Linked DNA regions of Homo sapiens. The protein of the gene in region 6 purifies or fractionates together with the protein of the main gene of each other region. This does not show direct contact. Each region holds a gene or a part of one and is shown on either strand. Other genes may lie near its edges.

Region 1 (3,917 bases), on a different chromosome or scaffold from region 6:
CAGCTGCCGAGGCGCGTTCCATGGCCCTGCCCACCCAGGCACAGGTGGTCATCTGTGGAGGTGGAATCACGGGCACTTCTGTGGCCTATCACCTCTCCAAAATGGGGTGGAAGGATATTGTCCTTTTGGAGCAGGGCAGGTAAGGATCAGACTGCATTTGGCTCATGGCTGTGCTGCACTAATCGTATAAGATTCCCTCTCCTTTCAGAGATACTGCCCCACCAGTAGCTAATCTAAATGTTGCTAAGTAGCATGAGAAGAAGCAAGGTGGAATCTCCTGAATTTTGTTTAAGGATGACTAATAATGCTCATGTTCTCTGGTTTTTAGAGAGTTGGCAAATTTCGTTTTCCTTTTTTTTTTTTTTTTTTTTTTTTTTGGTGGTGGTGTTTTGGTAGACAGGATCTCGCTTTCTTACCCAGGCTGAGCTTGAATTCCTGGCCTCAAGCAGTCCTCCCACCTTGGCCTCCCAAAGTGCTGGGACTACAGGCATGACCCACTGTACCCAGCAACATTTTAGACTTTGACAAAAATTTGCGTTTGTAAATAATGTGGATTGCATTTAAGCAAAGTAGACAACTGCTTGTGTTTGCTTAATTGCTAGGTTCTTAATATTGTTCTCATTCCCCAAGAGAAATATGCTCTATAGGCTTAGTTTCTCTGTGCTCGCCTTCTTTTAGGTCAAGTATTTTCTGCTTTATTGGCTTGTAAGCTAAGTCCCTTTATATTAATTTGTAATAGTTACAGAGATTACAGAATGGATTCTTATAATCCATCATTAATTAATATTATACCACTATACAAGTAATGTTAGATTCATACAACAATATTGGCCGGGCATGGTGGCTCACACTTGTAATCCCAGCACTCTGGGAGGCTGAGGTGGGCAGATCACCTCAGGTCAGGAGTTCTAGACCAGCCTGGCCAACATGGTGAAAACCTGTCTCTGCTAAACATACAAAAATTAGCTGGGCGTGGTGGTGTGCACCTGTAATCCCAGCTACTCAGCAGGCTGAGGCAGGAGAATCGCTTGAATCCGTGAGGCGGAGGTGGCAGTGAGCAGAGATCATGCCACTGCACGCTAGCCTGGGTGACAGAGCGAGACTGTCTCAAAAAAAAAAAAAAAGAATACAGGCCTTTGACTCTGATAATTCTCAACCTGTGTTTAGCTAATGTTTTCTTATTCCCTTTTTTTTTTTTTTTTAAGATGGGGTCTTGCTGTGTCACCCAAGCTGGAGTGCAGTCACACTATCACAGCTGACTGTAGCCTTGACCTCGTGGATTCAAGCAGTCCTTCTGCCATAGCCTTCCAAGTAGCTGGGACTACTGACATGCACCACCACATCTGGCTGGTTGTTGTATTTTTCTGTAGAGATGGGATCTCCCTGTGTTGCCTAGGCTGTTTTCTTTTCTTTCTTTTTTTTTTGAAATGGAGTCTGGCTCTGTCACCCAGGCTGGAGTGCAGTGGTGCAATTTCTGCTCACTGCAACCTCCGCCTCCTGGGTTCAAGCAATTCTCCTGCCTCAGCCTCCCGAGTTGCTGGGATTACAGGCACCCACCACCATGCCCGGCTAATTTCTGTTTTTTTAGTAGAGACAGGATTTCACCGTGTTAGCCAGGCTGGTCTTGGACTCCTGACCTCCAGTGATCTACCCACCTTGGCCTCCCAAAGTACTGGGATTACAGGCGCGAGCCACCACACCTGGCCTAGGCTGTTGTCTTGTGATCAGACTTGGGTTAGAGACTTTTATAACCATCACTGTATTGAGATACAATTTGCATACCATGCCACTCATCCTTGTTAAGTGCTGAAATCTGTTTACAGAGTTGTGCATCCATCATCATAACCAGGTCATACATTTTTGGCAGTAAGACCACAGAAATTAGGCTGGACTCTCAGCAGTGCACCACATCAGGAGGTGTATGGCTGTCCTGTCTCACTTCTGGTGGTGATAAACCTGGTCACTCAGTTACATTGGTGTCCTCCAAGCATCTCTAGCACAGAGACCCTGTTTTCTCCCCTTGTAATGGGCCAGTGCCCTTTGAGGAGAGATGGATTCTGAGATTATGCCAATATCCTGTTCATATGAGACCTCCACCTACCGGGCTTAGCATCCATTGACAACTGTTGCCTGAGTCAGCCACCACCGTGATGGTTGACAAATGGTGATTTTTTGATCATACTTCTACATTTATTATAGTTGGCATATTACTGTCAGGAAGAGATTTCCTTCTCCCCCATTTATTTACTCAGTTATATATCTGTATACACACATACACACACACACACCAGTTTAGACTCATGGATTTCTATTTTATGCAGTGGATAGTTTTTTTTTTGAGACAGAGTCTTGCTTTGTCACCCAGGCTGGAGTGCAGTGACGTGATCTCGGCTCACTGCAACCTGTGCCTCCCGGATTCCAGTGATTCTCCTGCCCCAGGCTCCCAAGTAGCTGGGATTAATAGTTGCATGCCACCACACCTGGCTAATTCTTGTATTTTTAGTATAGATGGGGTTTCACCATGTTGGCCAGGCAGGTCTTGAACTCCTGACCTCAGCTGATCCACCCGCCTCAGCCTCCCAAAGTGCTGGGATTACAGGCATGAGCCACCGTGCCCGGCCCGCAGTGGATACTTTTAAGAGCAAAAGTGGGTTTTGTTTTTGTTAATGTTTTTGAGACAGAGTCTCACGCTGTCACTCAGGCTGGAGTGCAGTGGTTCAATCTCAGCTCACTACAACCTCTGCCTCCTGGGCTCAAGTGATCCTCCCACCACAGCCTCCTGAGTAGCTGGGACTACAGGCATGCACTACCATGCCTGGCTAATTTTTTGTTTTTTTGGTAGAGACGTGATTTCACCTTGTTGTCCAGGCTGGCCTCAAACTCCTGGGCTCAAGTGATCCGCCCACCTCAACCTCCCAAAGTACTGGGGTTACAGGTGTGGGCCGCCACACTTGGCCTCATAATGCTTCCTTGATGTCAAAGTCTTTCTCCTATTTTTTGAAATCCTTTTAAATTTAATTATCAGGTATTTCCACAAAAAGTGATAAACTAATCGCAGTGTAAATGTTTCTAAGTGGGAGACCCTAGGGAGGTTCATTTTTGGTTTAATTTGTTGCTTCAAGATTATATAATACCTTAGAATTGATATAAGGCAGACTATTTAAACCTCACACTTAAAAATAATTACGCCAGCCAGGCACGATCGCTCACACCTGTAATCCCAGGACTTTGGGAGGCCAAGGTGAGTGGATCACCGGAGATCAGGAGTTCGAGACCAGCTTGGCCAACATGGTGAAACGCCGTCTCTACTAAAAAATACAGAAATTAACTGGGAGTGGTTATTCGCGTCTGTTAATCTCAGCTACTCGGGAGGCTGAGGTAGGAAAATCACTTGAATCCAGGAGGCGGAGGATGCAGTGAGCCAAGATCGCACCATTGCACCCCAGCCTGGGCGACAGAGCAAGACTCAGTCTCAAAAAAAAAAAAAAAAATTATGCCTCGGCCAAGTGCAGTGGCTCATGCCTGTTATCCCACGACTTTGGGAGGCCAAGGTGGGTGGATCACCTGAGGTCGGGAGTTCAAGACCAGCCTGCCCAACATGGGGAAACCCCGTCTCTACTAAAAATGCAAAAATTAGCTGGGCGTGGTGGCATAAGCCTGTAATTGTAGCTACTCAGGAGGCTGAGGCAGGAGAATTGCTTGAACCTGGGAGGCAGAGATTGCAGTGAGCCAAGTTTGTGCCACTGCCCTCCAGCCTGGGCAACAGAGTGAGACTGTCTCAAAAAATAATAGTTATTATTATGCCTTATCCGTGGCTTGTGAAATGGTTTTATACTGCCCTTTATGTATAATTATTCCTCTTGTCCATCTTCACTATTGTTCTCATAGATCAATGGGTCTTAAATCTGTCTGCACAT
Region 2 (3,917 bases), on a different chromosome or scaffold from region 6:
TTAGGAGGCCGAGGCAGGCAGATCACGAGGTCAGGAGTTCAAGACCAGCCTGGCCAACATAGTGAAACCCCATCTCTACTAAAAAAATAAATAAATAAAATTAGCCGGGCGTGGTGGCAGGCACCTCTAGTCCCAGCTACTTGGGAGGCTGAGGCAGGAGAATCGCTTGAACCTGGGAGGCGGAGCTTTTAGTGAGCCGAGATTGTGTCACTGCACTCCAGCCTGGGTGACACAGTGAGACTCTGTCTAAAAAAAAAAAAAAAAACACTGTGGGTTTTCCACTTGCAGTTAATGAGAGTCAACCTCTATCCTATGTTGATTTCTTTTTTTTTTTTTTTTTTTTTTTTTTGAGACAAAGTCTTGCTTTGTCACCCAGGCTGGATGGCACAATCTCAGCTCACTACAACCTCTGCCTCCCACGTTGAAGCAATTCTTCTGCCTCAGCCACCCGAGTAGCTGGGATTACAGGCGCCGACCACCACGCCCAGCTAATTTTTGTATTTTAGTAGAGACAGGTTTTCACCATGTTGGCCAGGCTGGTCTTGAACTCCTGACCTCAGGTTATCCGCCTGTCTCGGCCTTCCAAAGTGCTGGGATTACAGGCGTGAGCCACCACGCCCAGCCTCCTGTGTTGATTTCTTATGGTACCTCTCTTTTATAACAGAACCGTAATTCCTGGGCACACATGGCAGCTCAGAAATGTTGCCTGACCTACTTTGAGGAGATGATTTGAGCGAAACACCCATTCTAGCCTGGATGACATGAACATCTCCGTTTGGCTTTGTGCTTAGACTCAAGAACCTGGAGCTAGCTGCTGTGAGAGGATCAGATGTCCGTGTGAAGATGCTGGCGGCCCCTATCAATCCATCTGACATAAATATGATCCAAGGTAACCTTGGTTTCTGTGGCTTATGTTAATTGGCTTTTTTGTTCAGCTGCCACCTCATTTTCATTCCTCCTCAGGTGTGGGTGTGAAATGCCTGTGATTAGCAGCAGCTGTTCTCCAGATGAGCCGTCTGCAGGCTGTGTCAGCCCTGTCTGGCCTCCCTTTTCTGGAATGTGTGGCTTTTTGAGAAGATTGCAGTGGGGAGTAAACTAAGCATTGTGAAGTGCCTGCGACATGCTGGTTTCATTTCATATGTTACCTGATTTTCATGATAACCATGAACACTAAAGAATATTGTCCCCCTATACAGACAAGCAAGCTAAGGCTCAGAGGTTGGTTAGGCAGACAGTCCAAAGCAGAGCCCAGATCAGGCCTAGGATGGCGTGGACTCAAGTCCATGCTCTTTCACTGCCCAAACATCACTGGTTGACCCTTTAATGCTCTTCTCCCTCAGGAAACTACGGATTCCTTCCTGAACTGCCTGCTGTTGGAGGGAACGAAGGTGTTGCACAGGTGGTAGCGGTGGGCAGCAATGTGACCGGGCTGAAGCCAGGAGACTGGGTGATTCCAGCAAATGCTGGTTTAGGTGAGTTTCTCCAGGTGTCAGCTGCCTATTCGTTCTTCCAGATCCTATTTCACCCACTCTGTCGGCATCCACTGATTGGCCGAGTGTACCTGGGTAATGCAGGGTTTATTTTTTTTATTTATTTATTTATTTTGAGACGGAGTTTTGCTCTTATTGCCCAGGCTGGAGTGCAATGGCGCGATCTCAGCTCACCAAAACCTCCGCCTCCCCAGTTCAAGTGATTCTCCTGCCTCAGCCTCCCAAGTAGCTGGGATTACAGGCGCCTACCACCACGCCCGGCTAATTTTTGTATTGTTAGTAGAGATGGGGTTTCACCATGTTGGCCAGGCTGGGTCTCAAACTCCTGACCTCAGGGATCCGCCTGCCTCGGCCTCCCAAAATGCTGGGACTGCAGGCCTGAGCCACCACGCTTGGCCTTGTTTTGTTTTTTTTTGAGACAGGGTCTCACTTTGTCACCTGTGCTGGAGTGCAGTGACGCGATCTCGGCTTACTGCAGCCTCCCAGGTTCAAGCGATTCTCCTGCCTCAGCCTCCCGAGTAGCTGGGATTACAGGTGTACACCATCACGCCCGACAAATTTTTGTATTTTTAGTAAAGAGGGGGTTTTATCATGTTGACCAGGCTGGTCTCAAACTCCTAACCTCAGGTGACCCACCACTCAGCCTCCCAAAGTGCTGGGATTACAGGCATGAGCCACTGTGCCGAGTCTGAATTTTGTTTATACATGGAGATGAGCCAAAATTCACTTCATGTGGAGGATGTAAAATGAGGAAAGACACAAAGGTGAGATTGGGAAATGGTGGAAAATCCATTGTAGCCTCAGCAGAGGGTTTGCATATGGGAGAGGATTGCACGAGTGAGAAAGAAGGCCAGAAAGGCAGGTTCAATCACGTGAGCCCAGGAGTTCTAGGCTACAGTGAGCTATGATCGCACCATTGCACTCCAGCCTGGGCAACAGAGTGAGACCCTGTCTATTTTTTTTTAAAAAGGTAGCTTGTGTCCACATGGGGTAAGGCCCTGCCCAAGCCAAGCTAATGAGTAGGATTTTGTTTGATATATTATAAGGAGTCATAGGTGAGTTTTGTTTTTAGCACTTAACAGTTTTCAAGGCACGTCTGTTATTGATCCTCACAGCAGCTACAAGAGGGAAGCAGGGCAGGTATTATCCATCCATTGGACATAAATTGAAGCTTGAGAAGTAAAGCCCTGGCCCAAAGTCAAACAGCAAAATGAGAGTGCCCACTGGATTCTTTCTCCTGGGTTCCCATTACACACCAGTGTTATGATCTTCTGGGTTGTAACTTACAGCGACCCAGCTCAAACTTGCTTTAAAAAAAGAAGTTGGGGCCAGGCGTGGTGGCTCACGCCTGTAATCCCAGCACTTTGGGAGGCCGAGGTGGTGGATCACCTGAGATCAGGAGTTCAAGACTAGCCTGGCCAACATGGTGAAACCCTGTCTCTAATAAAAATAAAAAAATTAGCCGGGTGTGGTGGCATGCGTCTGTAGTCACAGCTACCCGGGAGACTAAGGCAGGAGAATCTCTTGAACTCAGTAGGTGGAGGCTACAGTGAGCCGAGATCATGCCACTGCACTCCAGCCTGGGCAACAGAGTGAGACTCCATCTCCAAAAAAAAAAAAAAATAAGGCCAGGCGCAGTGGCTCATGCCTGTAATCCCAGAACTTCGGGAGGCCATGGCAGGCAGATCACCTGAGGTCAGGAGTTTGAGACCAGCCTGGCCAACATGGTAAAACCCCGTCTCTTCTAAAAATAAAAAATTAGCCAGGCATGGTGGCGTGCACCTGTAGTCCCAGCTACTCGGGAAGTTGAGGCAGGAGAATCACTTGATCCCAGGAGGCGGAGGTTACAGTGAGCCGAGATTGTGCCACTGCACTCCAACCTGGGCGACAGAGTAAGACTCCATCTCAAAAAAAAAAAAAAAAAAGAAAGTTGATTTGTGGAACTGGGAAGTGTAACAGAGTGAAAGCTTCGGGTTCAGCTAGATCCAGGAACCCCAGTACTATCAGAGTTGTGTCTCTCACTTGTTCTTAGATGAGATCTCCCCACATATTGATATAATCAAACCAACAAATATTTATTGGCCACTCTCTTTGTGCCAGGCACTGCTCTAAGCACTTCATGTATATTAACTCAATTGTTCCCACAACATGAGATGGATACCTCATCATTCCCACTTTGCAGGTGATATAACAGTAAATGCAGCAGAAAACTGTAAACTGTTAAGCAGTTTGTCCAAGGTCACCCAGCCAAAAGTGATGGAGTTAGAATTCAGATCCACTCTGATACATACCTCTCATAGATGGCCACCAGCAGCCTGAGGTTCATATCACCCTAAAAACAAACAAATGAGCATATCCTCCACAATCATGTCCAGCACAACCATATCCATCCCCCAGAAGGGCCCTGAATGGGCCTTGCCCATCCCT
Region 3 (3,917 bases), on a different chromosome or scaffold from region 6:
GGCTCACCACCGTCTCTGTCTGTAACACACTCTCATGACGTAAAGAACCCTCCAACACACATCACCAAATGTTCCAGAATTCAGAAAATCTTGGTCTTTTATTTCTGTCCCTTGGGTTAAAGACACCTGTCTTTTAGTCATTTTGCTTATGAATGTACTTCTACTGGGGCAACTTAGGAGATGGGGAAAATGAATTAAAATCAGTGAAGCTTGATGCTCTTAAGCAACTCTGGTGATGATGATGATAATGATGAGAAGAAGAATGACTGGGAGACAGAATTAGTGATCCACGTTGGGATGAATTAGCTAAATGGATGTCTATGTCTATCAATCAGCTCGTCACCTCCCATTTGCTCAAAGCTTTGTCTTATGGGGCATCTCCCATCAAGGTGCTAAGTGCTGGGAACCAGAGGTATGAGCAGAGACAGGGCCCCCAAGAGGGCTGGCCCCCTTAACCAAGCTGGCCGGGAGTCCTAGACAATGGGCATCATGGGGCGTCATTGGACCCTGGCAGAAAGCACTACTACTTTGAACTCACTATCACCAAACCACACACAATAGTTTCCTAATTCCTCACCATGCTCCTCCCATCCCCTCCTTTTCTACCAACAATGGACACATCCCCTGCAGCCTGGCAGTCAGGGGGCTGTCTTCTGAGTCCATCAAATGCTGAAAGAAAAATATACAACTACTCAGTTCTTTTTAAAAGAACAAATAGATCTAAATTTAATCCAACTTACCTTTGTTTCCCAGGAGAAAGGGGCAGAGTGCTCATCTTGCCAAGTTAGATCCTGAAATAAAAAATCGAGAATAAGTCTGAAATTCAAACCCAGACATACCCCATGCAAATATCCACCCAGGACCGTGGGGGAACCAAAACTTAGGAATAATCCCAACTCCTGGCTCTAAACAAGCCTGATGCTTTGACACTCTCAATATAATGCGCTGACCGTCTTGATCAGATTGCTCCCTCATCTTTCCCGCTGAGGCTGCCAGACACTCCCCTCCCCAGCCAAACAGACAACAGGGAATGCCGGTGAGGCCCCCCAATGGACTCAGACAGATGAGATGAGTAGGAGTGGATGAGGGCTTGATGGTCTCAGCAGAATCAGGCACAGACTCAGCCCTGAACAATGATTAGCTGTGTGGCCATGGGAAGATGACTCAGCCTTTTTGAGCCTCAGTTTTCTCATTTGTAAAAGCAAAATGATACTTCCCTTGCAGGGCTGTTGTAAGGATTAAATGAGGTAATCTGGGAAAAGAACGCCAAGCCATAATCTGCCAGTCAATGCCAATACAGGAGCTCCCCTCCTCCCCAACAGGCCTACCAGAGAGCTCGAGGGCATGGATCAGCAGAATCAATGAAGAAAAACGCCAATGTAATCCATGTGACTAATTATAACAAGAACTCTGAAATCACTCCCCACCCCCACCAAACAGAACAGGACAGAAAGAGCCCTATAGAACAATCACTACGAATTTGACCTTGGATCCAGTATGTTTTGTTCACTGGCCTGCACAAATGACTTGGGGAAGCCACCTTTCCTTATATCCCACCCTCTACCCGCAGTTATTCCTGTGCTAGCAAATGTCTCATCTGTGTCCAGCTTCGATTGGGTAACTTTTGTTTGTTTGTTGGTTTGTTTTAAGAGATGGGGTCCCAGTATGTTGGCCAGGCTGGACGCAAACTCCTGGGCTCAAGGGATGCTCCTGCCTTGGGTGTCCAGAGCAGCTGGGACTACAGGTGTGCACCATGTCTGACTGCTTCTACTGGGAGCATATTTTCAGAACAAAAAATCAGGACACATTGGGTGATACAGGCTAAAATGGGATAAAATATTTTAAACGGAGATCATATCCATATCTCCCCAAAACTCCAGGTGATTTATGTCCTTCCGTAAGTATCCCTGGATAACTGTCTTCTTCCCACCCATAGGTACACCGACTCTGCGCCCCTAAGTCAAGGGTCTGGCTTCCCTCTCCTCTACAGGGCAAACCAGTTCTGCCCACAGACCCTCTTCTTTCAGCTTTTGACAGAGCCTCCGCCACCCTAGCTTAGCCTCAGACACTGGGGGCAAATGCCAGGGCCCACGCAGGGGGAGTGCCTCACCAACACATAAGTGTACACATTCAGCCTTCCAGACCCCGAGTGTGCGTTCTCTGTGCAGACGCCTCCTAACATGAACAGCCAGTGGGAGGTCAGTCTTTGAACTCAAATAACGAAGGCATGCCAGGGTCTGGGCAGCTGAAGGCCTATTCCCAAGAAGCGGGGACAGGGAAGGAAGTGTGTGATGACTCCCCAGCACAGCCCAAGCACGGCCAACCCTAGATGACAGGGGCAACACAGCAGGGCCTTTGTCCGCTTCTCTATCCCAAGTGCCCGGAAGACTCAGCGACTGCCCGTAGCGGACGCTTACTCACTCTTTGAGAATATGTGAATAAACAAACTCTGCACAAGCCCGGATCCTTTCACAGGTTGATTTTCCCCCACAATCACCCGCTCCCAACACTCACACTCCCCCAAGACTTCCCAATGTGGGGGCACAGGCTCTTCACAGCTCTTGGCCCCAGGAGGAAGAGCCAGCCATCAACAGGGTAGAGATCTGGTTCTGTGTCCTGATGGCTGTGCTGTGTGCCTTGGCTCTGTGCAGTAGAGGCTGGTACATTTGTGGCACAAATACTTCACATATGCTGGGGATAAAGAGCAAGGAAAACCCAGAGAGGAGACTGTCAAAAGGCCAGAATCCAGGTCTTTATTTTCCCAGGACAGCATATAAAAGGACTAAATATATTTATATCAGGAAAAAAAACACCACTAACAAAGATACTAGGTATAAATATTAAGAATTACAAAAGTGAGGGAAAAGCCCTACAAACTGGGTTAAGCTGCATTAAAGTGTATCAAACAGTCAGTTCTGAGAACCACATAGTGTGTGCAACTAATGACCATGTGCACAGTAAGATGACCCCCATCCTCAGAGTGTTACAGTCACTGTCCTGTAATGGTATTTGCTTATGATCCTGACTTCTGAACTGATTGGTATGCAGTGCCTCATGGCTGTCAAGCAAAACCTTTAAAAATGAGAGGAACCACTGCCTTTTTGTTTGGAATTTCAGTTAAACTCAAGTCACTTCCCAATGCACAAACTTCATTCCTCCAAAAATGGAAATGGATGCCTGGAGGAATGTGAGTTACCAAGGCTTTGTGATTAGATGTCTCCTAGCAGAGGCAGAGGGCCAGCCTTCAGCTCTAGGGGGCTCCTTGTCCACGTCTCTGTGTGCATGCTAGGGGTACAGTTGAGCTAAATAACCAAAGTCCCTAAAATCCTCAGAACCCTCTGAGTTCCGTTTAGAAGCAATCAAACCAAGAAGGGCTTTGTTTTCACATGGGAAAAATAAAAGAGGCTGATGGAATGTAAGTATCATTTATTCTAGTTAATCATTCATTAACTCTTCGTGAATAAATGATCTCTGCACAAGCCTGGATATTTTCACAGGTTGATTTTCCTCCCCAGCCTCCACACCCCACACTCACACACCCCCTAAGACTTCACCGGCTCTTCACAGCTCTTAGTTCCAGGAGGAAGAACCGGCCATCCACAGGGTAGAGTAGAGATCCAGCTTTGGATCTTTCGAAAAAGGTAAATGGAAATCAACTGGCAAAGGTGCTCCTTCCATCCAGAATCAGACAGGCCACTGGCCACCCAAATGGAAAGAGGAAGTGCATGAACACCTGCGGGGCAGGCAGAGGGCAGGACCACTGACTGGCCAGGGTGGGGCATGATGGAGCTGGACTCCCCTGTTACTCGATATGATTCTAAATATTAATTATATACCTTAAGTCCCTTTGAAATCTGCAAAGATTAAAATAATAAGGCTTTTGGCTTTGGAAGGTGGCTCAATACAACACTCTGAGG
Region 4 (4,510 bases), on a different chromosome or scaffold from region 6:
TCTCCTGGGCAGGCTAGCTAGGGGCTCTGATGGGTGTTCCCACCTGCCCACTGTGTGCTAAGGAGGGGAGGGTGCAGCAAAATACCGCCTGACATGAAAATAGTGCTGAGCTGTTCTCATGGGGTACAGGAGGGACATGCAGGCTCCATGTAGCACCAGGCCTCTGGCCCTACTGGAGGGGGCATTTTTAGAGACCAAGCTCAGTTATAGAGATCAAGGAGATAAGGTGGTCAGCACATCTAGGTGGGGCTATTTGAAGGGGGAGTGGAAAGTCGGAACTAGCGCTCCGAAAAAAGACACAGGCTAGTACTGGATGGTAAATGCCAGGTGTACCCACAGACACCTGAGATGGGGTGGTGATACAGGACATGACCCCAGGAGGCTGAGAGGGCAAAGGCAGCCAGGACATCAACATGGGAACTGAAGCCCCAGACACTGTCAGAGTTTACATTCAGGCAAGACTGGGGTTTAGGGCCTGGTCTGCCTTCTCAGCCATGACCCAGGCTCTTCTGGCAAGAACACAGGCCCTCCCACCTGTCTGCTGCTCAACACAGCCTTAAACTATTCTTCCAGCTGGTGGTCCCATTTGGCTATAAATCTCCTGACCTACTTCCCACTTGCTTTCTAAGCCCATCAAGAATCCCAACTCATGGCACTGGAAGGACCCAGCACAAGGAGATGCCACAGTGGATGATGACCGTGAAGTCAGTGCCCTCTAGCTAGCACCGAGGAAGCATCCTCACCTTCCTGCCATGAGTGTCCAAGATGCTGTGCCGAGATACATCGATCAGTTCTCCCTCCAGCAGGACACCATTTCCCCTGGGGATGAAAGGGAAAGAAAGGATAGCCAGTTTTGTCAGTCCTCAGCAAATCTCACCCGTGTCTCCTATTTACCCAGCCCTGAGAAGGCTGGGTACTGAGCAGCTCCTTTCCCCGTGCTTCCGACATAGGGATCTCCAAAGGGTCCCAAAGGCTGGGGCATTGCCCAGATGCCAGGAGGAACCTTGTCAGGCTGCCCTAAGATCAAGCTATGGCCCCCTCCTACAAGGCCACTGGGAGTTACTGGAACCAGAGCCTCAGTCTTATCTACAAAATGGGGAGGAAAACAGCTGCCTCACTCTGCTCCTCTGATGTTGACACAAGATCATGTGTGTGAAGGTGTTTTGTAAGCTATTAAGTGATTACTAAATACAAAAGATTTTACTTTTTTATTGGTCCAAATGTGAGGGTAGGTATCTAAGCTGCAATAAACTATTTTCCCTTTCCACCTGTTTTTAAACACTCTCATATTCCTTTTCTCATTCATATCCAGGTGGTCATTAACCCGAGGAAATGGTTATTACTGAGAGGTGAAGAAACCAAAACTCAGAAGTCTGAGACTAGTCCAAGATCACACGGTCCTTCACTGAGGGGAAGTGGACCCCTGGCTTCTCGACTCTGGTTTTCATAAAAGCAGAACGTGGAGGCTTCCTTTTTTGCATCCACAGAAATGGAGAAGCATGGGGACAGCTGAAGATGACAGTGGAATAGGGATGGGAGTGGGAAGTGAAAACTCTACCTAGCTGGTCTCTATCCAATTCTTCCCCACCCCCCACAATTATTTTTCTAAATATTTAACTGACAAAAGACTGTATATATTCAAGGTGCACAACGTGATGATTTAAGTACACACTATGTAATGATTACCACAGATTAATGAACACACCCACCAGACCCCATGCTGTACATTAGGTCCCCAGAAATTGTTTATTCTATAACTGAAAGTTTGTACCTTTGATCATTACCCCATCCCCATCCACTATCCCCTGGCAATCACTGTTCACTGTTCTACTGTTTCTTTTCTTTTGACACAGTCTTGCTCCATCGCCCAGGATGGAGTGCAGTGGCACAATCTCGGCTCACTGCAACCTCCACCTCCCAGGTTCAAGCGATTCTCATGCCTCAGCCTCCCAAATAGCTGGGATTACAGGTATCTGCCACCACGCCCGACTAATTTTTGTATTTTTAGTACAGACAGGGTTTCACCATTAGGCTGGTCTCAAACTCCTAACCTCAAGTGATCCACCCGCCTCGGCCTCCCAAAGTGCTGGGATTACAGGCGTGAACCACAGCGCCTGGTCTGTTCTGCCGTTTCTATGGTTCAACGCTTTTATAGGTTCCATATACGAGATCACACAGTATTTGTCTTTCTGTATCTGGCTTATTTCACTTAGCACAATTCTTCAGCGCAGTTGTAAATGGAATGGTCCCTTCGGCCTCATAACCCTGTGACGACAGGGCCTGGCCCTCCAAATCCTCCTCACCCAGGCAGGCCCTGCTCTGGACCAGCCCGCCCGCTGTTCCCGCCACAGCACGGCCACTGTCCCTTCTGGGGCAGGGCATGAGTCTGTGCAAAAGCAGCGCGGCAAGTAGCTGGAGTTTATAGTTACGCGGGTGGGGTGGGGCCGGAGGTCGGCGTGAGGCGAAGCCCAGCCTTCGGAGACCTGTCTGGGGGTCGGGACCCTCTCTCGAGGGCAGGCGGACAGGCGGGGAGCTTTAAGCCGATCTGTGTCATGGGGTCGCTGGGCGGGCGCGGCGGCAGGGGCGCCGGGAGCGGCGGACTGGAGGGGCGGACTGAAGGCGGAGAGGCGGCTTTGGCAACCCCAGTTTTCCCCCACCCGCATCCCACCCCCCCACCCGATCCTGTTGCGGGGTTCGAGCCGGGGCAGGGGAGGCCGACCCGAGGCCGTGAGCCCAGGCCTACCCCTGGTGGGCGGCGGGGTCCCAGGCCCCTGGCAGCCGGACGCTCTGCACCGCCTTGTTCCGGAGCGCGCCGTCGTGGTAGATGCGGCTCATTCTCCCGACCGCCCGGGCACCCCGGCACAGAGCCGGCGCACTGGGCTGGGGGCGCGGCGCGGGAAGTGCTGCAGGACGCGCGGGGACCCGCGATTCCCAGCCGGCGGATCCGGGAATGGCGCGGCCCGGCCCTCAGGCGTTCCTCGGCGGGATTTAAAGGGACCGAGCTCCATTCCTGCACGCCAGGCCGCGCGCGGCAGGAGTTGGGCTTCCGGGAGGACCCTGGCTGGGGGCTTAGCACAGTGGGGCAGAAAGGCCATGCTTTTCTCTTGTCTCTCTCTCTTCCTCATTCCTAGAGGAAGATCCCTGCCCCAGCACACGCACAAAAGGGAAATTGAGGCCCCAAGATCCTATTATAGAAGATCCTTTGTAGGATCAGCCCGGGAAGGATGGGTTTCTGGGAAGCAGGAATGGAGAACAGCCACTGGGGAGGATTGGGTGGTCAGCTTAGAAGCTGTCCATTATGCCCCGCCCGCGGCCCTACAATGGCTGAGTCAGGTATCCCAGGGATCTGTGACGAGGGAGCTGGGGCATGGGTGTCGGACCAAAGACGCCTAAGTTTGAATCCCAGCTGTGAGCTTGGGCAAGCTCCTCAACCTCTCTGAGCCCATGCTTCTTCGTCTGTAAAATGGGGTCAGTATCAGGGGGATTGTAAAGTTTAATGAGCTCACCCTTTCTACAACATAGCATTGCCCTCCCTCCTTCTTCCTGCACAGCTCCTGAACTCCTCCCTGGCCCCACAATGCCCTTTGCCCAAGTATGTCATAGTCCGCAGGTGCATTTTCCAAGCCTGGTACAGAAGATTCTTCTGACCCTGGGATTGTTGAGGAATCTTTGTTCTTTTGTTTGGCTTCTTCGTGCCAGGCCTCGGGGCAGGTGGGCCCATTCAGGGAGGCCAGGTGTACCCCGGGAGAGGGGGCGGCATTTAAAGGGGGTGGTGGCCAGGCAGGTGCCTAGGAGTCTAGCATGAGCTGTCAATGTTGGAAGAAGAAAGCACCCTCTCCCTTCCCTGCTACACACACACACACACACACACACACACACACACACACACAGACAATGACTTTCTTGGGTCCTAGGCACTTTTGTTTTCAAAGGACCCTTTCTCCATTAAAAATTTTTTAAAAAATTATTATCTTACCACTGGGTTGGCATAAAGATGAATATATGAATTATATATATATATATATATTTTTTTTTTTTTTTTTTTGAGACAGTCTTCCTATGTTGCCCAGGCTGGAGTGCAGTGGTGAATCTTGGCTCACTGTAACCTCTGCCTCCCAGGTTCTAGTGATTCTCCTGCCTCAGCCTCCTGAGTAGCTGGGATTACAGGCACTCACCACCACACCCGACTAATTTTTGTATTTTTAGTAGAGATGGGGTTTCACCATGTTGGCCAGGCTGGTCTCAAGCTCCTGACTTCATGTCACCACCTGCCTCTGCCTCCCAAAGTGCTAGGATTACAGGCCTGAGCCACTGCTCCCAGTCTAAAGTGTTTTCTTCAACCTAAACATATATTTTTTTTTCTGCATCCAATCATCCATTACTAAACATATTTTTAGGAAGAAAGAGCACCTGTAGTCCCAGCTACTCAGGAGGCTGAAGTGGGAGGATCACTTGAGCCCAGGAGTTTGAGTCCAGCCTAGGCAACATAGCGAAACCCTGTCTATTAAAA
Region 5 (4,686 bases), on a different chromosome or scaffold from region 6:
AATCTACCCTAATTAATATATTATTGAAAGATACTACCAAATGCTGAGTGTTCTGGCCTTCTTCCCTCCTCAGCCTCAGGAAACTGGCAGCAAGGCTTTTCTCACACAGATAAGATACTGGAAGTTTCCCTTCCCTAACACTGACTACACAGATAAATAACTTGCAGATAACAGTTTGGGGGGAGGGGATACAGCCTTCAGTGAAATACCCAGGTCAGATCACCTCACAGTGAAGCCCACTATTTGAAGAGATTCACCTGTGCTTACAGTGCTTTTAACATGTTTTTCTCACTCCAAAATATATTTTTAATGTAAACATCAATAAACGCAGGAAGGAAAGTGTATTTTGAGGGAGTGGTATGAAGAAACCTAAATCCTAAATATCCAAGTCAATAGCTAGAATCCTGACCACTTTTAGAATTCCACTAGCACCTTTATTCGTATCTTACTTTATTTTTCTTTATATTATTTGACAATCCCTGATATATTTACTCTTCCTTTTTTTATCTGTTTCCTCCATCCTGGATGTTCCAAGAGGACGGGACTTTGAATTTTGCTCAATTCTGTACCCCAGTTTCTGGAAAAGTGCCTGGAACATGGAAGGAATTTAGTAAATATCTGTTGAATAAGTAAATGGATTGGCAATTACAGGGTTTAAAAAAAAAGGTCTAAGAAAATAATTTACTCATATAGATCCAGTCCTGATACAAATGATTTTTTTAGTCTTGCATGGTTACAAATAGATGTCTCTCTTCTAGAAAAACTGAGGCAACCCTTCCGAAATAACTAATTTTAAAAAGTCTCCCTTCCTTTGAACAGACAATTCCAAAGCTCTTCCACAAGGCACAACCAATACAACCCAGGTCATGGCCCTGCAATCCCTCCCTAGTCCTCATGATGTAAGCAATATTACATTAATGTTTACAATAATGTAATTATTAGCAAGAATAATGTAAACATTAATATAGATTACTGTAAATTAATAGTGTAATTAATTACTGTAAATTAACATAAGCATTATTAGATGCAGGAAGACAAGTGAATTTGGGGGCAGTGGCATCTATGAGACATAAATCCTCATCTGCCACAGAAGGAAGTCAACACATACTATCCATAACTGAAAATGCAATAAACAGCAGAAAACACTACTTACTTAAAAATACAGAAACAAGCATTAAATGAAACAGCTTGAAATGTTGAAGGTGGTTACTCTGGGAACCAACACTCCCGGACTGGGAGGACTAGACCAGGGTATGTTTAACTTTGACTTTTTCATTTCAGGCTCGATGCTGCCATTTCTCTGAGCTCGTGGAAAATTTAATCTAAATCTTAATTAGGAGCCTTCTAAGATGGAGAACACATTCATTGCAGAGAGGTCAGGCTCAAATACACGTCTATCACAACATCTAAAACTTAACTCGGAAAAAACCTCCACGATTTTAAATACAAAGCACTGCACATGCACGCACTCAACACCTCTCCTTCTTTCCCCATGGTCAACACACCCACAACCCCTGCACATTTACCAATCTACACAACTGAGCACTGGAGCGAATGAGGTGAGTGAGGGCCCAGAAAGTTGAAGCAGGAACGATCCGAGCCTTCAGTTAATCCTAACGTCACCTCTAACGTTTGGGGTAAGAACGTTTCAGGAAACCAAGGGGGAACCAACGCTCAGCACAGCAGAGAAAGACACCAAGCTACGGGACCCGCCGCGCCTCCCGCGCCGGGGTGGAGCTGACCCCGCCGAGCCCCGCCCCAGCCTGCGTCTGCCAATGATCCAGGAGCCGCTCCTTTCCACTCGGGAAACCTTCAGAGGAGTCTCAGAAAGGACACGGCTGGCTGCTTTTCTCAGCGCCGAAGCCGCGCCATGCTCGTCCTCAGAAGCGCCCTGACTCGGGCGCTGGCCTCACGGACGCTGGCGCCTCAGGTACCGGCCACGGGGGTACCCAAGCCTTCACCCGACGGGAGGGGAGGGGCGGGGCGGGGAGTGTTCCGGGTACGTGCGAGCAATGCGCATGCGCTCTCCGCCACGCGCGCCCAGACCTGGGGCCCCGGTGAGGTTCTAGCGTGAGCCCCGGAACCCCAAGACAGGGGTACCCGGAACGCGCGTGAGGAGGAGGCCGCTGCTAGGGGAATACCCCCAGCCGGGGTCGTCTCGCGGGCAGTGGTGGTCAGAAGGCTTTTCTAGCCTGGATGCCACACCCACCGGGACACTCCCATGGCGCCGGCTGTTTCGTTTTTGCTGCCCAGCTATGTCGCGGCTGCGGCCCAGCGAGCGCTCCCATGTTGTCACCTGGCGCTGTGGAGCCGCGGGTGGAGTCGTAGCTTTCCAAGCCACCGCCCTCTCTAGACATCAGGTTGAAGGAGGGAATTGTCAACCAGCCGCTTGCCACGGAACCGGCCTCCCCCTTTTAAATGAAGCACACAACTTCCGAGCATTTCGCGGAGACCCTTGAAGAGGAGGCCCAGGGTCCCGGTGGGGCTGGACCCTGCCCGCCACCCGCGCTTCGTGTGGTCGCTCCCCCAACCAGGCGGGACCGGAGCCTCCTATCAAACCGGACGATGACAGACAGACTCTTTTAACCTTAGATGAGAAATGGACAAAATGGAGCTTGTGATTCTGCCCTAACTTTCGGGAGTGGCCTATTCTGTGGCTTCAACCTAGAAATTTCTTTTCCTTTTGATGTTTAGGACTTTACTCCTTTCTGAAGGGGCAGGATGGGAAGGGGATTAACCTGTCCTAGAGACAGACTGAGGAGCACTAAAGAAGAGCAGCTCATGTCCATTCACCCCGGGTTAACAATGCAGTTTTTACCCTAATGATTCTCCAGTGGGGCAGGGCCAGGAATGACGTCCTTATGGCATGATTCCAAACTTTAAGTTTTTAGAAATGTCCATCAGTTGTTCTCTTTTAAGTGAAGTGGAGGTCGTTGCTGGTGGGAATGATCCCTAACTTGGAGATAAGGGAGGATGGACGACTCATGATTTCTGCCCTAGCAGCTAAAAGTCATCCCTGCAACAAAATTCTTAACTCCCATCCGGCTCCCCCACCATACCCGGCTCCCCTGCAGTCTTCCTTCTCTGGCACCACCTGTCCACATCTCTCTCCCTCTCTCACTGTAGGTTCCCTACTGTATATTAATACTGCCCAAAATTGTAAAAATGTGTACCTTTGATCAACTATTTTATCCTCCAAATACAAATTCCTCGAATCAACCTGAAATCCATTTGTCACAAATGCCCCATTGGCCTATCTCCTGATATATTTTATTATAATAATTTTGAAATTATGGATACTAGGCACTTGCTTCTTGACCAACATTGTTACTAGAGTTTGGTTTAAAAGCACAAAAAGAGTGTCCACAAAAGGCAGGGGCAGCTGCAGCTGTTTTTGTTGGTAGGCTTAGTCATTTGAGCAATAAGAATATAAGTCACACACGAATAGAATTAACTCTAGATAATTATCATTAAGCCTTATCATACACAGTTACATAATTTTGTATTTTGTAAACAAAAATATGTCGGAGCAAAAGCCTACTGCTTTCAGACAGACATACTGGCTAGTCAGTATAAGCCCTAATTTGTCCATAGCTTTGTAGGTATCAAAACTGTCTTCACAGATTATTCTGGTGTAATCAACTTAAGGAAATGGCACATGCTATTCAAACTTAAGTAAGATGGATTTATAAGAATATCACGAATGCCTGTGTGTATACCATGAGTGCATATATATATGTGTGTGTGCGTATGTGTGTGTGTATGTGTATACATATATACACATAGATACCTACATAGAGGATAATCTTAGGCGAGGTATTTCTTACAGAAAGTTCAACCAGAACACAAATTAGAAATTTACAGTGCGTGTATGACTATTACAAAAGGAATTAATGGTTCTTAAGTGATATTTTCATCAATGTGGTATAAGTGGATTCATTAAATGTTGTTCACATTGCATCTGTAATTAGAAACTAATAAGAAAATTTTGACTCTGAATTTTCTTTTCTCAGCATTCATGTTCTACCATTATATTACAATGCAATTGGATAGGTCAGAGCTTTTTATTGCATTAGTTACATTCCAGTCCTAATTTTGGTCAGTGGTTTACTTCATTGAATTAGGAAATACTTTGACCTGAACTGTAATTTCCATTTTTTTCAAGAACCTAAAAGAGTTTTCTTCTAGTAAACATTTTTTTCATTATGCCTGCCAAAAGTTACGTGCGTAGTTAATAAAGTTCTTTGATGTGCATAACTGTAACACGTATGCTCTTGACTAAAGATGCAATATTGGCTAATAGGAAAACTTTTGTAAATTTGTTAGAATCCTAATTGTAGTTCTTGGATAAAGAAGTATCATTAAGATCTCAGCGCCTTCTTATGAGCAATTTCTGAAAAAGTGGCTAAAGGTGACAGTGAACCCCCACTAGGAAACAGTAACTACACACTCAGCATATTTAAGAGTAGTTGTCTTTATTGACACCTCTATGTAAACAAATGTATATGTGAAGCAGGAGAATAGGGTCTTGAGGCAGGGAACCTAAGGACTTCCTAGAACTAAATCAAACCCTTCAGCTATGACAAGAAATACCCTCTTCATTTACATAGGGTGTACACAGAGTAAATGACTTTGCAACTTTACTTCATCCTCTTCATTTATATACGGCTTACACCACATAGCCAA
Region 6 (3,917 bases):
AATGTACCAAAAGACAATTCCTTCTGTCCACTTCCACCCTTCTCACTTTCTGTTTCACCATCATCTTTCCCTTGATCAGTTGTAACCTCCTGATTCTTCACCCTGCTTCCACCCTTAGCCCTGTATAGTCTACTTTCCATACAGCAATCACCTTCATCCTTTTAAAATGTAAGTCAGATAATGTACAAGCTCTGCTGAAAATGCCAGTGGCTTTCCATTTCACTCAAAAAATTTTTTGAAATATGTACCATAGCATGTAAGGTCCTACTGGATCTAATACTGGGCTCCTCTCTGAATTCATTGCTTGCCACTTTTCCTTTTGATCAGTGTCCTCCTGCCATCCTGGCCTCCTTGCTGTTTCTCAGACATGCCATGTATGTTCTTTCCTCTGCACACCTGTGCTTTTTATGCCTTCAGTGCTCCTCCCTAGAGGTCTACTTGATCTCTTCCCTCACTTCATTCAGATCTGTGCTGAACTGTTACCCACCAGAGAGATCTTCCCTGACCATTCAATATCAAATATTACTCCTTCTGTTACAGTAGGTAGCTAGTCAGGCATGAGCAGGGCAGAAGAGGGCTCCCCTCCCTCAACACACACCAGGAATGACAGGCAAACATCAGGTGATGGTCAGGCAGTTGTTAACTGTTTCTCTAAAATATTAATTGGTTGCAGCCTGCACCAGGGAAAGGCAGTCTCCAAATAAACAGAAGCACCTGAAGCTGGTGATCAGCAGCTTCCCATGAGATCTCAGGAACTGGGTGAGTGGGCTCAAGCGTTTGCACTAAGAGGCAAAATGGCAGAGTTTGGTATGTGACCTCCTAGGGACATTCGACTGGTAAGGGAAGAACACCTCAAGTGAACACGCGTACAACTCCAGTAAACACGTTGCACATGGTCCCTTTCCCAAGTGCTGGGAGGCTACTGTGTGTGCAGACAGCCTGCCCCAAGGGAAGAATCAGGGGAGATGGGACACAAGATCCTGGAAGTATGCTAACATATAAAACCCCAAGTTGAAAGGTCAAACCGTGCATTTGTCTTTTCAAGTTGCCCACTTTGCCCTCTTCCAAGTGTACCTTCCTTCCCTTTGTTCCTGCTCTAAAGCCTTTTATTATAATAAACTGATTCCATCTGTAAAATTGCCTCAGCCTCTCCTTCTGCCTTCTGCCCCTCAGTTGAATTCTTTCTTCTGAGGAGGCAAGAATTGAGATTGTTGCAGAGCCATAGGGATTTGCCATTGGTAACGCTTCCATTATTCATTCTTCACTTTCCCTAATTTGTTTTCCTTTATCTTTATAGTGCTTATGATATGTGATAGAATAAACACATAATCATTGCTTCTGCACCCCAACTAGAATGTGATTTCCATAGGAACAGGGAATTGGAATTTGTATCTAGTATCTAGAACCATGCTTAGTACAGTGCATATATTCAAGAAATATTTACTGAATGAATTTAAGGAAAACTTAAAAATTAAATGGGAAAAACAAGAAACTTGAATTTTAGAAGGTCAAGTGGGTGTTCTCTATTACATCTGCTATAAAAAAAAGGAAGAGTTGGCTGTGAAGAAATGGCAATCAAGACCAAGACCTCTTTAGCAAATAACTTGTTAAAACAAGTAAGTCAGTAGAAGGTGTAGTGGGTTGAATGGTGTTCTGAGACACGAAGTTTGTGGTAGTTTCTTGCAGCAGTCCTAAGAAAAAGAATATAGATGAATTAGAAGATAAGGTAAATCTATCAGAAAGTAGAACAAAATGTCAGAGATAGAAAAAGGAGGCAAGAAGAAGTGACGTAGAGATTGAATCCAGAAAGTCCAACATTTGACTCATATGGGTTTCAGAAGGAAAGAACAGACAAAATGGAGAAGAAATTGTAAAAGGGATAATAGAAAAAAATCTAAGAATTGAAGGACCCAAGTTTTCTGACCCCCCCAGTCACATTATTATACAGCTATTGAGAGGATCCCACATGTCTTGCTGGGGGGTGGTCAGCTAACAGGCCTGCAACACTGAATGCTCGAAGACTGGAGTAATGCCTTTGAAATTCTGAGAGAAAAGAGTTTTCCTCCTAGAATTTTCTACCCAGCCAGCTGTCAATCTGGAGTGAGAACAGAGTAAAGACATTTTAGACATTTAACAACTTGAGAAATTGGCCTCACATGCAATCCTTCTTACAGAACACTTATTAGGGATATGCTTCTGCAAGACAAGTAAACCAAAAAAACGTGAATGCATGGGATCCAGAAAATGATAGATCTACACTGGAGAGCAAAGAAGCAGTCTTAGGATGCCCGGAAAGCATCCAGTTCATATTGCAGCCTGAGGATAGAGGGTTCCTGAAGGAGCTGTTTGGGTAAAGAGAGGATTCCATAATTTTGATGATATCCGTGAGGCATTGGAATAACTTATAGACGTGATTATGACAATGTAAGAAAGATAATTAGAAACACGAAGAAAAATAGAAGCTGAACCAAAAAAGGAAATTTAATTATAGCAGCATCCTCACCAAAAATAAACACATAGACAACGCTTCTCACACACCTGAGTGTAAGAATTATTTGGGATGTTTGCTAAAAATACAGATATTCATTTCTCCCTCCTTGAGATTTTGATTCACTAGATGTGGGATGGTGGTTCAGGGATCTGCATTTTAATGAGCATTCCAGGTTTTTCTTATCTAAGAGAAATTTTTGATATATATAATAGGAAATGCATAGAAAATTCAGTATGATTACAGAACATTCTATCAGCCTTGATATGAAAAAATAAATATGCAGAAGACAAAAATTAGAAGAATGAGGAAAGGGAGGTAAAAGTCAGGTTATTGATGTTAAGAAATACTGTATATTTGTATTAGTTTGTTTTCATGCAGCTGATAAAGACATACCTGAGACTGGGTGATTTACAAAAGAAAGAGGTTTATTGGACTTACAGTTCCACATGGCTGGGGAGGCCTCACAATCATGGCCGAAGGTGAAGGGCATGTATCATATGGTGGCAGACAAGAGAGCTAGTGCAGGGAAACTCCCCCGTATATAATCATCAGATCTCATGAGATTTACTCACTGTCACAAGAACAAGACTTGCCCCCATGATTCAATTATCTCCCACCAGGATTCCTCCCACAACATGTGGGAATTCAAGATGAGATTTGGGTGGGGACACAGCCAAACCATATCATTCTGCCCCTGGCCCCTCTCAAATCTCATGTCCTCACATTTCAAAACCAACATGCCTTCCCAACAGTCCCCCAAAGTCTTAACTCATTTCAACATTAACTCAGAAGTCCGCAGTCCACAGTCTCATCTGAGACAAGGCAAGTCCCTTCTACCTATGAGCCTGTAAAATCAAAAGCAAGTTAGTTACTTCTTAGATACAATGGGGGCACAGGTATTGGGTAAATAAAACATTCCAAATGGGAGAAATTGGCCAAAACAAAGGGGCTACAGGCCCCATACAAGTCCAGAATCCAGCAGAGCAGTCAAATATTAAAGCTCCAAATGATCTCCTTTGATTCCATGTGTCTCACACCCAGGTCACGCCGATGCAAGAGGTGGGTTCCTGTGGTCTTGGGCAGCTCTGCCCCTGTGGCTTTGCAGGGTATAGTCCCCCTCCTTGCTGCTTTCATGGGCTGGATTGAATGTCTGTGGCTTTTCTGGGTGCATGGTGGAAGCTATTGGTGGATCTACCATTTTGGGGTCTGGAGGACAGTGGCCCTCTTCTCACAGCTCCACTAGGCAGTGCCCCAATAGGGACTCTGTATGGGGGCCCCGACCTCATATTTCCCTTCCACAGTGCTCTAGCAGAGGTTCTCCATGAGGGCCCTGCCACTGCAGCAAACTTTTGCCTGGGCATCCAGGTGTTTTCATACACCTGAAATCTAGGCAGAGGTCCCAAACCTCAATTCTTGACTTCTGTGC
Region 7 (3,128 bases), on a different chromosome or scaffold from region 6:
CTGCGCCTGGCCAAGACAAGCTAAGTAATTTTTATGAAATTAGTTGAATGAGGAGAGATGACATCTTTAAAGTTGATTATTTTATCTAGGATTTATATGAAAAAATCCTCTAATCACTATTGAGTGTAGGCCAGAATAACTTGATTTTTTGAAATGAGTATTTTTGTTAGAAGAAACATAACATCAAACTACTTCTCTTGTTTCTTCAACATAGGAGTTCATTTCAGCATCTGATTACTTGATGGAGAATATCAATTTTGTGCTTAATTATTTAATAATAACCTAATTCCATCAGCTGTATTGCAAACTAACAGATAAAGAATACTGAAGTTACTCATGTTTGCTTTGAAATGTTTGTTCAGCTCCTTAGGTGGACATATTCAACCAATTAATTTAGGGTGTGACAGCTTAGTTCATATTTTGTGTGTAAAAAGCCAAGTAGAATGATGAAAATTTACAGTGATTTAAATCAGATATTTTTCTTTCTAACCCTTGATGCCCACACTTGCAATGTTGAAAATTTGTATTTTATTTTTTTAAAGTGACTTTTACCAGTTATTCAAACAGGTTGTACAGAGAAAGAGGAAGGGAAATTTGTATTATAAATATGATTTTAAAATATAAAAAATGTACAAAATTCTATGATGAATATTAGCAAAAAAATAGTGTATTTCATTAAATTATTTATAAAGTGATGGGACACAAACATGTACACAAGCTCTCAATGCTCACAGTTGCCAAAATGATGTTGGCCTGCCATTCTATTATTTGTTGGTTCAGTTTTCTTTTTTGGGGATGTGGTAGTTGATCTTTAATGCCCATTCTAGATCGGAAAAATCCATGATCCTAACTTTTAAGAGAAGGTTGGTAACTCTACTTAGGACTTTTTTTTCTGTAAGAGGAATAATGTAGCCTCACCCTTATCTTTCTGGAAATGTTTAAACCACTGAAATATGGAGATCAAATCCAGCTTACACACTGGTAACTCAAATACTATTTTTTTTTTTAAACTATCTTTTCTAAACTAATCACCCCTCTTGTACATAGAACTTTCTACCTCAGTGCCAATTCCTAGAGGTTGATGCAAACAGCTCGCCAGAGAGCCTGTGCTATTGTTCCTGCGAAAAAACCCAATTTCCCTGCACATTTGGATAAAAATGAGTTTATCTATATAAAGTTGAGACGGTAAGAATTCACAGAACAATGCCCTGGAAGAGAGATTTGCAAATGAAAGAGGGAGAAATAGTATTTTTAAGGAAAACATGAAAGTTGTCTCGATTTGACCGAAGTTTGAAAGAGAGTTGGGGGAATAAGAAAAGTTTCAAGATGCCGGTTTTAAAACTATGCATAGAAACAAAGGCAGGAATGAAGCCCGAACTCTCTCGGATCAGTTTCCCCCAAGTCTCTAATTATTTCATGCCCAGATTTCTTATATTTTTACTCTTTTTTAAGGGGCAACAAACACAGCAGCGCGGTAGATACGAGGAGTCCTTTTCCAGCAGCGCCGCGCATGGAGCAAGGAACCAATCATCACTCAGCGTCTCTCTATATAAACCCTCAGCCTCCCTCGTAGAGGACATGCTGTTCTGACAGTTTGAGATTACTTATTGTCTTTTCTGGGAAGACAAAAACATGTCGGAGACTGCTCCACTTGCTCCTACCATTCCTGCACCCGCAGAAAAAACACCTGTGAAGAAAAAGGCGAAGAAGGCAGGCGCAACTGCTGGGAAACGCAAAGCATCCGGACCCCCAGTATCTGAGCTTATCACCAAGGCAGTGGCAGCTTCTAAGGAGCGCAGCGGCGTTTCTCTGGCCGCGCTTAAGAAAGCGCTTGCGGCTGCTGGCTACGATGTAGAAAAAAACAACAGCCGTATCAAGCTTGGCCTCAAGAGCTTGGTGAGCAAAGGTACTCTGGTGCAGACCAAAGGTACCGGTGCTTCTGGCTCCTTCAAACTCAACAAGAAAGCGGCTTCCGGGGAAGGCAAACCCAAGGCCAAAAAGGCTGGCGCAGCCAAGCCTAGGAAGCCTGCTGGGGCAGCCAAGAAGCCCAAGAAGGTGGCTGGCGCCGCTACCCCGAAGAAAAGCATCAAAAAGACTCCTAAGAAGGTAAAGAAGCCAGCAACCGCTGCTGGGACCAAGAAAGTGGCCAAGAGTGCGAAAAAGGTGAAAACACCTCAGCCAAAAAAAGCTGCCAAGAGTCCAGCTAAGGCCAAAGCCCCTAAGCCCAAGGCGGCCAAGCCTAAGTCGGGGAAGCCGAAGGTTACAAAGGCAAAGAAGGCAGCTCCGAAGAAAAAGTGAAACTGGCGGGACGTTCCCCTTTGAAAATTTTAAACGGCTCTTTTCAGAGCCACCCACAGGTCTCAGTCAAAAGAGCTGAAGCTTTTTGGAGGGGGGAGTGGGGTGGAGAGGGGTGCGGGTGCTGCGGTGTTGTGCGGCCACGGTCTATCCTAGTCGTGCTGGTTGGGGGTCAGTTATTAACAGCTCCCAGCAGCCTGGGCGCAAGGATCCTTCCGTCTCAGTCTCAGCCACAGTCACCGGATAGCTAAGGCTACTTGAGCCACCAGGTCCTACTTTTTCTTCAAATTCCCGCGGTGGTGTGTGATTGGCCGGCCGATTTCTGTTAAAGCGCGGCGCTTAAAAGTGGCCCTGAAAAAATTTTATTTCTGACACAGGGATGTGGTGTAAATGCTTTAGTTTACTTTAGCGTTGAGGTGACTTCCTGAGCACATCCCGTCCTGGTTGTGAGCAGTACGTGGCATGCCCAAGGTGCTTCCGGCCCACGATCTTGTGCAGCTGGTCGTTGAGAATGGCCAACTGCTGGTGGTGCCCGGTGTCTGTCTTTTCGCAGGCCTTTGATAAGCCTTAGCTTTGGGATATCGGCCCTCAGGTACTGTATTTGTAAATAGTGTGGGGGCTGCACTGCGTGACGAGGTGGCTCTCCTGTAATCCCAGCATTTTGGGAGGCCGAGGCGGGGGCATCACGAGGTCAGGAGTTCGAGGCCAGCCTGAAGAACATGGTGAAGCCCCATCTCTGCTAAAAAAAAATACAAAAATTAGTCAGGCGTGGTGCCGCGCGCCTGTAATTCCAGCTACTTGGGGGCTGAGGTAGAAAATCACTTGAACCCGGG

Evidence for each region.
Region 1: the proteins of PPA2 (region 6) and PDPR purify together in Homo sapiens (affinity purification with mass spectrometry, with the first as the bait; one large-scale study listed by BioGRID). This does not show direct contact.
Region 2: the proteins of PPA2 (region 6) and MECR purify together in Homo sapiens (affinity purification with mass spectrometry; 2 studies listed by BioGRID and IntAct, with this or other methods). This does not show direct contact.
Region 3: the proteins of PPA2 (region 6) and C1orf198 fractionate together in Homo sapiens (co-fractionation; one large-scale study listed by BioGRID). This does not show direct contact.
Region 4: the proteins of PPA2 (region 6) and ARPIN purify together in Homo sapiens (affinity purification with mass spectrometry; 3 studies listed by BioGRID and IntAct, with this or other methods). This does not show direct contact.
Region 5: the proteins of PPA2 (region 6) and NIPSNAP3A purify together in Homo sapiens (affinity purification with mass spectrometry; 2 studies listed by BioGRID and IntAct, with this or other methods). This does not show direct contact.
Region 7: the proteins of PPA2 (region 6) and H1-3 purify together in Homo sapiens (affinity purification with mass spectrometry; 3 studies listed by BioGRID and IntAct, with this or other methods). This does not show direct contact.

Annotation. Positions count from the first base shown.
Region 1 is NC_000016.10:70,120,581-70,124,497, forward strand, and holds part of PDPR (pyruvate dehydrogenase phosphatase regulatory subunit, mitochondrial isoform 1 precursor), read left to right. Parts: coding exon 1-139; intron 140-3,917. UniProt on the Homo sapiens protein: Decreases the sensitivity of PDP1 to magnesium ions, and this inhibition is reversed by the polyamine spermine.
Region 2 is NC_000001.11:29,213,560-29,217,476, reverse strand, and holds part of MECR (enoyl-[acyl-carrier-protein] reductase, mitochondrial), read left to right. Parts: intron 1-664; exon of another isoform or gene 665-791; coding exon 792-889; intron 890-1,340; coding exon 1,341-1,472; intron 1,473-3,917. UniProt on the Homo sapiens protein: Catalyzes the NADPH-dependent reduction of trans-2-enoyl thioesters in mitochondrial fatty acid synthesis (fatty acid synthesis type II).
Region 3 is NC_000001.11:230,854,928-230,858,844, forward strand, and holds part of C1orf198 (uncharacterized protein C1orf198), read right to left. Parts: intron 1,081-3,917; exon of another isoform or gene 951-1,080; intron 792-950; coding exon 741-791; intron 1-740.
Region 4 is NC_000015.10:89,910,001-89,914,510, forward strand, and holds the start of ARPIN (arpin), read right to left. Parts: upstream 2,953-4,510; 5' UTR 2,836-2,952; coding exon 2,744-2,835; intron 2,688-2,743; exon of another isoform or gene 2,052-2,687; intron 820-2,051; coding exon 744-819; intron 1-743. Other genes in the region: ARPIN-AP3S2 (uncharacterized protein LOC100526783), read right to left, coding at 744-819, 2,744-2,835. UniProt on the Homo sapiens protein: Regulates actin polymerization by inhibiting the actin-nucleating activity of the Arp2/3 complex; the function is competitive with nucleation promoting factors.
Region 5 is NC_000009.12:104,745,923-104,750,608, forward strand, and holds the start of NIPSNAP3A (protein NipSnap homolog 3A), read left to right. Parts: upstream 1-1,760; 5' UTR 1,761-1,870; coding exon 1,871-1,930; intron 1,931-4,686.
Region 6 is NC_000004.12:105,463,813-105,467,729, reverse strand, and holds part of PPA2 (inorganic pyrophosphatase 2, mitochondrial isoform 1 precursor), read left to right. Parts: intron 1-3,917.
Region 7 is NC_000006.12:26,233,438-26,236,565, reverse strand, and holds H1-3 (histone H1.3), read left to right. Parts: upstream 1-1,578; 5' UTR 1,579-1,632; coding exon 1,633-2,298; 3' UTR 2,299-2,354; downstream 2,355-3,128. UniProt on the Homo sapiens protein: Histone H1 protein binds to linker DNA between nucleosomes forming the macromolecular structure known as the chromatin fiber. Histones H1 are necessary for the condensation of nucleosome chains into higher-order structured fibers.